3 separate regions of the Homo sapiens genome follow, and all the other regions are reported to be linked to region 2. Evidence: microRNA targets listed by miRTarBase, many of them from high-throughput screens and not tested one by one. Region 2 holds a microRNA gene; each other region holds the end of a gene's coding sequence.
The links. Region 2 holds the annotated microRNA hsa-miR-4708-3p (AGCAAGGCGGCAUCUCUCUGAU, at 2,744-2,765, shown strand). A microRNA usually pairs through its seed, bases 2 to 8, with sites in the 3' UTR of a target mRNA and lowers its output. Matches are read on the target gene's strand: a 7mer-m8 pairs with bases 2 to 8, a 7mer-A1 pairs with bases 2 to 7 and ends in A, and an 8mer does both.

Region 1: miRTarBase lists PSD as a target of hsa-miR-4708-3p. Seed matches in the 3' UTR shown: 7mer-m8 at 1,264-1,270.
Region 3: the mRNA of ATG7 is a reported target of hsa-miR-4708-3p. Seed matches in the 3' UTR shown: 7mer-m8 at 3,116-3,122 and 8mer at 1,144-1,151.

What each region holds. Positions count from the first base shown.
Region 1 is chr10:102,399,878-102,403,932 of GRCh38, reverse strand. It overlaps PSD (pleckstrin and Sec7 domain containing), which reads left to right. Exons shown (of 17, transcript NM_002779.5): 16 at 1-91; 17 at 503-1,314. The coding sequence ends at 733. NFKB2 (nuclear factor kappa B subunit 2) reads right to left here. Exons shown (of 23, transcript NM_001322934.2): 15 at 3,739-3,853; 16 at 3,442-3,655; 17 at 3,109-3,278; 18 at 2,884-2,986; 19 at 2,602-2,753; 20 at 2,415-2,484; 21 at 2,016-2,188; 22 at 1,774-1,885; 23 at 1,409-1,681. The coding sequence ends at 1,557. Among named protein-coding and RNA genes, the nearest start is that of NFKB2, 6.2 kb to the right of the region's middle. RefSeq lists a silencer at 1-121 and an enhancer at 2,362-3,058.
Region 2 is chr14:65,333,822-65,337,887 of GRCh38, reverse strand. MIR4708 (microRNA 4708) reads left to right here and starts at 2,705; the gene lies at 2,705-2,771. RefSeq lists enhancers at 1,457-1,606, 1,667-1,766.
Region 3 is chr3:11,554,131-11,558,185 of GRCh38, reverse strand. ATG7 (autophagy related 7) reads right to left here. Exons shown (of 21, transcript NM_001349232.2): 21 at 521-3,375. The coding sequence ends at 3,343. VGLL4 (vestigial like family member 4) reads left to right here. Exons shown (of 5, transcript NM_001128219.3): 5 at 1-2,117. Among named protein-coding and RNA genes, the nearest start is that of VGLL4, 88 kb to the left of the region's middle.

The DNA of each region.
Region 1 (4,055 bases), not on the chromosome of region 2:
GCGGGAGCACCGGGCCGCCCAGCTGGGCAAGAAGGGCCGGGGCAAGGAGGCTGAAGAGCAGCGGCAGAAGGAGGCCTACCTGGAGTTTGAGGTGAGCCTCCCTGTCTGCCCCTCTGTCCACACACGCAGGCCCATACTAGGGTGAAGGGCATGAACTCTAACAGTGGAACCGGCCGGAGGTCCTTGGGCAGGTTGCTTAACCTAAGCCTCAGTTTCCTCCTCTGTGCAACAAGGATAACATTTGACATCCACTGGGGTCTCGAGGTGAGGCATGTCTCAAGCGTGCCATTTCCCCAGCTCTAGTAAAGGCTCAAGACACATTAGGTTATAGATGATGGTCCCAGGAGAGCCCAGAGGGGGCACCAGCCCGCATGGGACCATCTCACAGTCCTGGGTGGGCACCTGCCATCTTCTGCCCTGCTGGCGGCCCTCCCTGGTCCAGATGGTGGGGTGGGCAGAAGGCAGAGAAGAGGCTCTCACAGCCCCTGCCCCTCTGCCTCAGAAATCCCGCTACAGCACCTATGCAGCGCTGCTTCGGGTCAAGCTGAAGGCAGGCAGTGAGGAGCTGGATGCAGTGGAGGCAGCACTGGCCCAGGCCGGGAGCACAGAGGATGGACTCCCTCCTTCTCACTCCAGTCCCTCCCTGCAGCCCAAACCCTCCAGCCAGCCCCGGGCTCAGCGTCACAGCTCAGAGCCTCGGCCAGGGGCAGGCAGTGGGCGGCGGAAGCCCTGAGATGAGGTTTAGGGTGGGGAGTGCCTGCTGGGCACCTGAAGGATGACATGGCCCTGCCTGAGCCCGGGCCGGCCTCGGGCCACCCACGAGGGCCTCCCGGCCTAGGGCCCGACCGCGCCGGACGCGGTGTCCGGGGCAGGGCAGGGCTGGGGCCTGGGCCTCAGGAGCCTAGGCTAGGGGCACCTCCGAGAGCCCCTTTTTGTGATAATGTTTTGCACTTTTTCGTACAGGGTGGGCGGGGGCGGGAGGGGCTAGCGCCCCTGAACTTTTGATGCTTTTTTTTTGTGTGGGAGAGGCCTGATGCCGTTTCTGCTTTCTGCTGAGACCACCCCCACCCTGACACCATCAGTCCCCCTCTGTCCTGGGGCCTGGCTTGGACAGAGACCAGGATTTGGGGCTGAGCTGGTTTCCCCTCCTTCCTCCCCAAGGGCTTACTCTTTCTCTTGCTGGAGGTGGAGGAAGGGCGTCCATGCCAAGGCCCCATACCTGGGCCGGGGGCAGCACGGCCTGGCTTTCCCCCGCTTCAGTGGGCCTTGCCCTTTGTACAGCCTCCACCCCCATTAAAACTGCTCTGGACTTGCTGGCTGGGCCTCCTCCTTCTCTTCTCACCATGCCTGGCATGTGGGCAGGGTGGGTAGCTGGTTCCAGGGACAAGAGTCACATCAGGGGCTGCCATAAGTTGGGAAGGAGGGGTCCTCCCCTTCCCATGAGAATCCTTTATTTGTCCCAACTGAGGGGTGGGTGTGGGGTGTTAAATAAGATTTGAAATAGGTGGGGACGCTGTACAGGGGGTCCGGGAAGGGGGCTGGGGGCAGGCAGCAGGTCAGTGCACCTGAGGCTGGGGGTGCCCGTGGCAGAGCCCTCCTGGTGGCTCAGGGGGTGGGCCCAGCTTCTCTGCCTCCTGCTCCACTGACTGGCTCCCGTACGCACTGTCTTCCTTCACCTCTGCTGGGGGTAAATGGGGACAGGAATGGGATAGTCAAAGCCTCAGGCCTCCGGCCCTCCAGGTCCAGATCCACCTTCCAGGGAGGCCCCTTTACCTGTGCTGGGCAGCTTGTCTCGGGTTTCTGGACCCCTCAGCAGCCTCACTCCCTCCTCTAGGCCCATGTCAGACAGGGCCTCCAGTAGACCTGCCAGGTCCCCGCCAGCCAGCTGAGAAGACAGAGGAATGAGGTCTGAGTCATGGTTAGGGCATGTGCTCGGGAGCCCTGGGGCCAAGGAGGCACCTGGACTCAGATCGGGAAAGGAGGCTGGGGAGGGGGCAGGGCACAGGCCAACCCACCTCGTAGCTGCGCAGGAGGCTGCCACTGGGTGAGGTTGTCTGTCGGTACGTGTCTACCAGGCTGCGCAGCCCCAGACGCTCTGCCAGCTCTGCCCAGCTGCCCTGGGCTTCTGGCCCGTCTAGCAGCTGCTCCAGGTTCTGCAGAGCTGTATCACCAAGTGACAGTCCCGGCCCTTAGGGGGACACACATACAGACATGTCATTTACCTCCAGAGTTGGGTGGGGACATGGACACCTGAACACTGCCTTTCTCCCAAGGTAAGCGACAGACAGGACCATGAGGGGTGATGGACGGGGCTGAGGGTAGAGAAAGGGAGGCCTCCTTCAGAGGTCCTGAAGGAGAAGAGACCTCTGTGAGGAGTCAGAGGAGTCGGGCTGGGGATGCCTGATGCTTCTCACCTGCTGGGCTGGGCGGGGTCAGGGGTGGCTCCATGGTGTTCTGAGCAGCATTTAGCAGCAAGGTCTTCACCTGGGGAGACAGCCGCAGTTCTGACTACCTCCCACCTCGTCCTTAAGCCTGTGTCTTTAAGTCCAGATACTCTGGACCCCGTCACTCAGAGCACTTCTAGTCCCGGGCTGGCCTCACCTTGGTGCTGCAAGTGAGGTCAAGAGGCGTGTGGCCCCGGAAGCTGCTTCGGGTGTCCTTCTCAGGCCCTTCAGAGTCCGAGTCGCTATCAGAGGTAGGGGGTGAAGGCAGTGGGCACAGGGGCTCCTCGTTTTCAGCATGGATGTCAGCACCTGGGAGAGGGAGGCCGTCATGGGGCGGTATGGTGGGGGCCTACATTAAGGACTGCAAAGTCGGGGGACTGGGAGGCACCTCTCTCCCTTCCCCCCACCCTGTTCAAGTGCCCCTGAGGGTGAGACTGACCAGCCTTCAGAAGGAGGCGGGTGAGGGTCGGGTACCCCAGTCCAGCTGCCAGGTGCAGGGGTGTGTTTCCCGCAAAGGTGCGAGCGTTCACGTTGGCCCGGAGCTGGGGGTGCGAGCAGCGAGAGTTGACACCACAGCATGGTCCCCTTGGCCAGCCCCCCCCTTCACCATCTTTGGCCCCTCCACCACCCTTGGCCCCACTCCTTCCACAATCCTCAGTCCCACCTTGGTGACCAGATGGGTGACCAACCCCAGCTCCTCCATCTCTGTGGCTAGATGCAAGGCTGTTCGTCCCCCCTGCCGCTCTGTGGCCTCCACTTCAGCCCCACTGTCCACCAGCAGATCCAGGCACTCAGGGCTTCGGGCTCGGACTGCCAGGTGTACTGGATACAGTCCTAAGGATGCAGGATGCTCAACCTGCAGCTGTGACCCTTAAGGCAGCCCCTGGACCAGCCCTGACCATTCAATCTCGACACCTCATAGTCCATTCTGGGCACTGGCCAGATACCCTCCCTGGTCCCCGCCTGCCCCCTTAGTCAGGTGAGATGGGGAGCTCACCCTCAAAGTCAGGCATATGCAACAGCTGGGGCACAGCAGGAGCTCCACTCTGAAGCAGTGCACGCAGCAGCTCAGGAGCACCAGCGCCTGCCCGCAGCGCCAGATGCATGGCTGAGTCTCCATGCCGATCCAGCAGAGCTGGGTCTGCACCTACCCGCAGCAGAAAGCTCACCACACTCGTCTGCCCCGTGATCACCGCCAGGTGCAGGGGCGTCTGGGGATGAAAGCAGGGTGAGCCAGGCCCGAGACCCACTTGCCTTCCAACCCCTCCCACCTCCCCAGTAGGCGCCCCCGCACCTGGTGCAGGTGGTTGGTGAGGTTGACAACGCCGAGGTCCTGGGCGTGGTGGATGACATAGACTATCTGCTCAATGACACTGGTCTGCCCGTGGATGATGGCTAGGTGCAGTGGTCTGGGGGTTGGGGAGCGAGAGTCTGGCCCAGCCACTCAGAGCATCCTTCGCTTTCAAGGCCCCACCGCCCTCATAGTCTCCCTCGCTGGGGCCCATGGAACCCAGCACGTGGCCCAGGGCATCGCTGTGCCTGCACTTAACGTTTCGCAGCACCTTTTGAGGTAGGTAAGTGCTATGACTGTACCCCTTGCACGGTCGACCA
Region 2 (4,066 bases):
AGAGCTTGCAGTGAGCCAAGATCACACCACTGCACTCCAGCCTGGGCGACAGAGCAAGACTCTGTCTCAAAAAAAAAAAAAAAAAATTCAGAAGTTGTGCAGTTCCAGGGTTGGGTAATTCCATAGCTCAGCAATGTTCTCAAGGAACCATGCTTGTCCACCTTTTCTCTCTGCCACTCTGCAGCTGTTGCCTTTACCTTCCTCTTTATGTTTGCAAGATGGCAATAGCAGTTCAAGCTCTATGTCCTTAACAACATCTCAAGGCCAGAGTACCTTGCTTCCTTTTGAAGACTTAGAGATTTTCCCAGACGTCCCTTCTGCAGTTTCCTTTTATGTTCCATTGTCCAGAACTATAGCATATGCCTTATTTATTTTATTTTATTTTATTTTATTTATTTTGAGACAGGGTCTCACTCTGTGGTCCAGGCTAGAGTGCAGTGGCTCAATCATGGCTCACTGCAGTGTCAAACACCTGAGCTCAAGCAATTCTCCCACCTCAGCCTCCTGAGTAGTTGGGACTAAAGGTACGCACCACCGTGCCCTGCTAATTTTATTTTTTATTTTTGTAGAGAGGAGGGCTCACTATATTGTCCAGGCTGGTCTCAAACTCCTGGACTCAAGCAATCCTCTCATCTTGGCTTCTCAAAGTATGGGAATTACAGGTATGAGCCACCATGCCCAGGCCAGTACATTCCCATTCTTAAACCAGCCCATTTCTAAACCAGTTACTGGCAAGAGTAGAAAATTTTCATGATTGGCCTAAAGAATCCAGATTCACCTTCCTTGGGCTGGCTGAGTCCCGCATCCCAGAGCTCCTGGTTGATATAACTGAAAGAAGTGGAACTAGGGTAGGAGGCTGCACTCCAGGAGATAAAATGGTCTCAAAATAAGCCCTTGAGACTTTTTATAAGTCACAAAATCCTACTAGTTTTTCAAAGTGCAGCTCAAATCTTGGGTCTTTCATTAATCTTTCCCTTATTATCTTAACCAGAAGCAGCCCATCCCTGCTATAAATTTAAAACCTTGAGTATCGGCCAAAAACACTGGAATCATTCCTGATTTCTCTCTTTATGTCATAAATCATAACCCTATATCTCATCTATCTTGTCTACTCTACCTTCATTATATATCAGAATCTAATCTCATCTCACCACCCTTAGTCTCTTCTCTCTGGTCCAAGCCACCATCATCTTCATCTCATCCCGGATTATTGCAGCACCCTTCTCACTGGCCTCACACTTCTCCTTGTGCACTCTTGGAGTCCATGCTCAGAGTGATCCTTCCAAGGTGTGAGTCCAATCATGTCACTGCTCTACTCAAAGCCCTCCAATGGCTTCAAAACAAAATCTAAAGTCCTTACCACCACTTGCAGGGTCCTCAGTGATCCACTCTGTCACCTCTCTCATGTCCTCTCCTGCCCACAGTCTCCTGCTCACTACTTTCCAGCTACACTGGCCTGCTTGTTCTTAGAACTCACCAAGCACACTCCTTCCTGAGAGCCTTCGTGCTTGCTGCTCGCCTTGCTTAGAAAATTCTTCACAGACTCAGATGACTCACTCCCTCCTTCTTCAGATTTTGACTCAAATGTCTCCTTACCAGAGAGGTCTTCTCTGATCTCCCATCTAAAAAACCACATTCTCTTAACCATGTCACTCTACCCTCCTTAATCTGCTTCATTTTCCTTCAAAGTACTTCCCAGAAGCTGGTGTATTATACATATTTATTTGCTGACACTCATCTTGGCCTCTCAAAGTATGTCTTGTCTCATTAGAACATAAGATCTAGGGGGTGGGGGAATAGGGGAGGGATAGCATTAGGAGAAATACCTAATGTAGATGACGGGTTGATGGGTGCAGCAAACCACCATGGCATGTATATACCTATGTAACAAAGCTGCATGTTGTGCACATTTATTCCAGAACCTAAAAATATATATATACATATATACACATATATACGTGTGTTCCTTATACATATATATATATAAGGAACATAAGATCCATAAAGCCAGGGGTTTTATCTGTTTTGCTCCCTGTTTTTTGAGACAGCCAAGTGTAAAGGGGTCCCCTGAGAAACTCCGACTGGCCTGCGCACTGGGAGAACAGGGTGGAGCTGCAGAAGTTCACACCCTTTGCAGCAGGAAGGAGCCTGGCCTCTCCTGATCCAGGGTAGTACATGGGATTCAATCAGTGAGGCAGGAAAAACCAGCAAGCAGGACTCTCACTTTGCTGAGAGTCCCTGTTTCCATTTATTTTCCTTTTTGCCCAATAAGTTCCATTCTTCTCACCCTTCAAAGTGTCTGCAAGCCTAATCTCTCATGGCTGTGTGACAAGAATCCGGCTTTTAGTTGAACTAAGGAGAAAGTCCTATAACACTTTAGCCTCAGAGCTTACAACAAAACATAATTAGTGCTCCATATATATTTGTTCAATACTTATGTATTCCCTTAATGTTTGTTATCTGTTGGGCATGGTCTCTAGCTGCTATCTTTACACACATCCTGTCTCTTCAACGGGAACATACGATTCTTAAAGGCCAGAGCTGAGTCTTAAAGCTCAAGGCCTTAACATAAAGAGGCCACTCCAAAGTGTATGTTGTTGACATTTGGAGGGAGGATACATTGGGGCAGTAACAGCTGTTGTTATGTTACCTACCCGCTCTTGGCAGGGCCCTGAGAAGCTGAGGTATGAGACACAACAGCATATTTAGGAGAGAGATGCCGCCTTGCTCCTTGAACAGGAGGAGCAAGGCGGCATCTCTCTGATACTAAAAGGAGAATACGGGAGCACCTTTCTTACCTACATTTCCCCTGGAACTAGTCTTTCCACTTGCAAGTTTGTTTACAATTCCACGTTCTTTGCAACTGAATGGGGCCTCACCCTCATTAATTGGTGGCAAAGGTCACTCCTTAACAGATGCTAAACAGAAGCAGAGCAAAGTTAAGGGTGGCTAAGGTCACACAGAGTCGTTGCTCAAATTTAGGAAGGAAACCCACCTAGTGTGAGGTGGGGCCCCAGGAGGGGCATCTGAGCCCCAAGAGAGCAGCTCTCTTTAGCCCCTGCTCTAGTTTCTTTGCAGTTCTCCTAAAGAAGTTCACCAGCAAGGCCATTTACCAGACACCAGGGAATCAGGCCACTTTCAAATGTTGATAGCATTACGCTTGCCAGAGGAGAAAGGGACAAGTGAGGAGACTGAAGACAGTGCTTTCAAGAAAAAGAAGAAAAAGATATTGAATGTGCACTCGCTAAGCCAAAAAAGCAAATGCCAGGAAGAACCGTGAGCCTTGTTTGAAGCCAAGTCTGCGCAGAAGAGTCCCAGGTGTAGGGAAGGAGGAGCTGAGGTGGTCTGAGGACGCACAGCAAATGCCCTGGGGGGTGGGGCGGGAGGAGAGAACATATTTTAAGCAACCTTAAAAGACTCGTTTTAGCATTCCGCAGGAAATGAAAAGCAGATGTGTTGGTTTGGAACTTGTTTACATATTTGGCCTCTGAGAAGCTTCCAGGACAGTTAGGACTGGAGAGAAGGGGTATTTTAGGCAAATGCTATAGTCTCCACTTGGAGAGAGTGGGGCCCTTCATTGGCTCACCTGCTTCCTGAGAAGCAAGCATTTAGGCTGAAAGACCATCATTGTCCCTAAGACAGGTCTGGCTAGAATAAACCAGGATTTGATATACAGAACTGGTCTCCTTGTACCTTCTTACAGAAACTAAGGGTTGTTGCACCTCCTCTCTTGCTTTCAAGTCACACCCACTGGGCAGAGAAGTGAAATCAGAGGCCTGGACATTGGGAGGATGATGGGATGGTTCACACCAAAGGTCCTGAGATTTGCAGAAGGCTTGTTAGAATACAGATTACTGGGTCTCACCAGCTCAGCCGAGCTAAGATGAGGCCAGTGGCTACACACTGGAATCATCTGGAGATTAAAATAGACTGATAGCTGAGCCCTGTTCCCACAGATTCTGATATTAATTGGTCTGGGGTGTGACTTAGGCATTTTTTAAAAATTATTTTTAATATATAATAGAGAGGGGGTCTTACCATGTTGCCTAGCTGGTCTCAAACTCCT
Region 3 (4,055 bases), not on the chromosome of region 2:
TCCTTTGCTTCTTGAGACCGGGGTGTGTGTGGCTCAGCTTCCACGGCGTGTTTGGTTCGGTCCATGTGTGTGCGTGTGTATACTTGAAGAGAACTGTCGTGTCTGATTTGCACTATTGGAGGAGGACTAAAGTTGCCTGACAACTTTATGTGTTATGCCAGAACTCTGAGGGCAAACTGCTGAAAAACAAAGGGTTTAAGGATGACATTTCTGACCATTTGTGTGTTTGTTGTTGTTACTGTTTTTGTTTTTTTTAATGTAGACAATACAGCTTTGGAAGGGGAAGTCTCATACAGGTTATAGGTCTTTCTCTCTCTAGATTTCAGGTGCTTGCAACTGGACTGCAGACTCTACCAATCACGGGCATTTTATCTTCTCTGAACACTGCAGTTTGTTAGACTAGAGCTGAGGTTGGAGGATTCCATAGTGCTTTAAACGTGATGCATGTTTTAATGGAGAAAAAATAGCTGGTTTCTATTAATTATATAGACAGTAAACAAAAACCTTAATACTTACTATCTTCTTTTCAGAATTAGTTTATTTTTGTCAGTTACAGTCCTAGATATACTTACTGCTGGTACAGTTGTACTCTAAGATTGGTATTTGATATTCACTTTACTCACAAGTAGTGCGGGAGGCCAGCTCCTGGCAGGCCCTCGCGATGAGCAGTGGGTCAGCTGCGGTGTGGGATGCTGGAGTTTGGCTGCAGGCTGACATCATTTATTTTTGCATCCCTGTCTGCTTTGTTACAAGCTCCCAGGGGAGGTGGGGTTTGTGTCTTCCAACTTCCCTACATGCAGAAACTGCTCCCTTTGAACTCTCTTGGCTGAACAGCAGATTACTGACAGACAATCTGTGATATGGTGTTTTATACGCTTCCTCGTACGCTGGGGCCAAGGCAGTATACATTCCTCTGACTTTATACTGTTATTACTGCATTTATTATTTGCTATATTAATAGCTACTAACTAGAAATTAGATGAAGCAAGCATGACAGACACAGCTGTGGAGGTCACAGCTGCTCCTTTTTGGTCAATGAGCGTTTCTATCCCCTCCCCCTGGGGTGTGCTGTGTCCCACCTGGCCCACCAGAGGCTCACGACGATGGCACCTGACCAGGTGACGTGGGCGTGGTCACCTCACCTGCAAGGCTTTGTGGACTCTGCACACCGTATGACCCCCGGTTTTACAGTTTTTAGCTGTTGAATTTTGGAAATTGGCACTGGGTGAAAAGGTCGGAGGACTGGCTCTTGTAGTCACAGAGTGGCTGCAGGCCTTTGAAAAGTGGAGGAAAGAAAAGCCCTTCTCCTTGCCCCGCACACATTTCACTCCCACTGTACTGGGCTTCCAAGCTTTGGCATTCAGGCCCCTATATTTTCTGTAGGAAAAATCGTTGAGAACACTTTTCTATATGGGTGATTTTGAGACCATCGTTACGCTGTGCGTAAAGAATGTACAGAGAAATTTGTAGGTATTTTTTGAAGAACATTAATTTGTTAATGATATGTAGCTATTTAATTTTTCCCTTTCCTATTGTAATCATTCATTTTTTTTGTTGTTCGGAAAAAAAAAGTTGATCTTTTTTTTTGTCGTAGATTTGTCTGTAAAAGTGCAGGAACAGTTATTCTATGAGAACACTGCATCTGCATTCATAGCCACGAGTTTGTTATTGCTACAGGCTACTGAGCGTCGTAACAGGAAAACCACCCACAGCTGACCGGCTCGGTGGAGGACACTCCTGGGACAGGTCTCTTTGTCAGTGAACAAGGGCGTCACTCTGGGAGGGGTCGGCGGTGCTGGCGGCCGGGTCCCTGGTGCACTGACCTATCTGGGATAGGCAGTACCCTGGAGGGGGGCCTGGGGCAGAGGAGGCAGCAGAAAACCAAACATTTCACTGAGAAAGCCCCCTCCCTGCTCTAAGAAGGGGCTCCGTGAAGTTCTTCCCAGAGCCGCGCTGCCTGCAGTGCGCTCTGACCTTCTCTTCATGTGTGTAAATCTGTAATATACCATTCTCTGTGGCCTGTTTTTCCTGGAAGAAGAAAAAAAAAGGTTTGGCAGGCCATCTTTTTTTGTACTTAAAAGTAGCCTTAAGAACAATAATAAAGTGCTCTTAAACCACATAGTGTACGTGTGCAGTTTCAGCGCCAGGCTGGGTGGGCGGACTCGGGCCCTGCACCTGTGCCGGCTGTGTCCCCATGAAGCTCCCATGAGCTGAACGACAGCCACTGGAACTTGGACTGGCTACTTTGGGAGAAGCGAAGCCTCATTTGAAATCTACCCTACTAAATCCTACTGTTGTAAGGGTCAGCTCGACTCAATTTTCACTTTGATTCTGGGCCTAAGACAAAAGCTGAAAGAATAAAATAGCAGGAAAGACGATGCCCTCTACACGGGGGCAGGGTGGTCACAGGTACCTAGGCCATGGCCTCTCCTGGGTTGGGGCCTCACAGCTGCACACACCCAGAATAAAGAGGAAAACCAGCTCTTGCCTGAGTTACCCATGGTAGAGCCGTCTGACCCCTCCCTCGGCTGGGGCAGGAAGGCAGCCCAGGCTCGGCCTTTCTGGGCCTGGCCTGCTCATAAGGGCAGGGAGGAGCCCCATCCAGGCAGCTGCCAGGATCTGCCCCTGGGCTCTTCCCCCCAGCTCAAGGCAGCAGCAGAAACTCCTCTCCCTCAAGCAGGCAGGCAGGCACAGATGCTATGCCCACAGTGGAGGACAGGCTGGGAGGCAGAAAGCCATGTCTGAGCAGCTCACTCAGTCCTTGGTGGAAATCTGGCGTCACTGGGTCATGTGGGCCCTTTAGTCTCGTACCCAGCTCGGCTCTCCTCCTCCTCCCGCTCCACCAGGGCCAGGGTGCAGTGCGCTCACGGGGTCCCACCCTCACCCATGCCCAGGGCCCCCACAGGAGGAGCCTGCGGTGCGGTGGGCAGCACATTCCGGGGATGAGGGTGCCACCTCCCGCAGTGGCTCTGGGCAGGAGCTGGTTGCTCATTTCCCCATTTGGTCTGTGTTGGGTCACCCCCTCAGGGCCAAGGGGAAAGGATCCTGGGGGATGGCTATCAGTCACTGTGACAAGAAATAAAAACTGCATGGAGGACCAAGTCCCAGGTCAATAGCAAGGCCAAGGCCAAGGTTATTATTTAGCTCTGAACTGGTGGTATCTTGAATCCCGAGCAACGCCGAACACTGGCCACTCCTGGGCAGCAGAGGGGGGAATCCCAGACCTCGGGGTATGGAGGAGGGGCCCAGAATCACCAGGCCTGGGGTCAGCAGTCCTGCTCTGGCGATGGAGAGCTCCTCAGCAGGCGGCCGGGGAGAAGTCAGCCCCACAGCGGGGCCATCTCAGATGGTCTCATCATCGCTCATGTCCCAGATCTGCATGGAGAAGGGGAGAGGCTCAGCCGAGATGTCCCACTGCCCGGTGGGGGGCACACAGATGCTTCAAAACCGCAGCAGTCATGGCAGCTCCCACCTGCAGAACCACTCCCTTGTTTCTGAGGGACTGTCACCCCATTTCTGTACAAGGAAACCAAATCTCAGACTTGCCAAGGCGTCACTAGTGTGTGAACCACCTGGTGGAACCAACAGGGGAGGGCTGGGATTTGCACTGGGGAATGTGCCTCTGCTCACCTCCTGCATGTCCACCTCGGGGGACCGTCCCTGACCCAGCCAGCCTCTGCTCATCCTGGCTTCTGCAGCACTCACCCCCACCCCAAGCCAGCTTGTTCTCCTTGTGGTCCACCTGCCCTCTGGAAGGCAAGCTCCCTGAGGGCAGGAATTCTGGCATGGGCACGTGCTGCCTTGGGAGGCTGCACCCTGGGCACCTGCTCCATGTTCCCTCTAACTGTAGTCCAGCTGCCCACACTCCCAACTCACACTAGAGAGCTGGCTCAAGAGCAAGCCCTCCCCACCAGCCAGGGTGGAGGTGGCCTGGAGCAAAGACAGTGGAGACAGCCAGATCCTGCCACAGTCCCTCAATGCGTGTCCTCCGAGTCTGAGCCTCGCAGTGAACCTGGGGAGCAGGAGGCCCCAACGTGGCTGTGAGGAGAACTGAG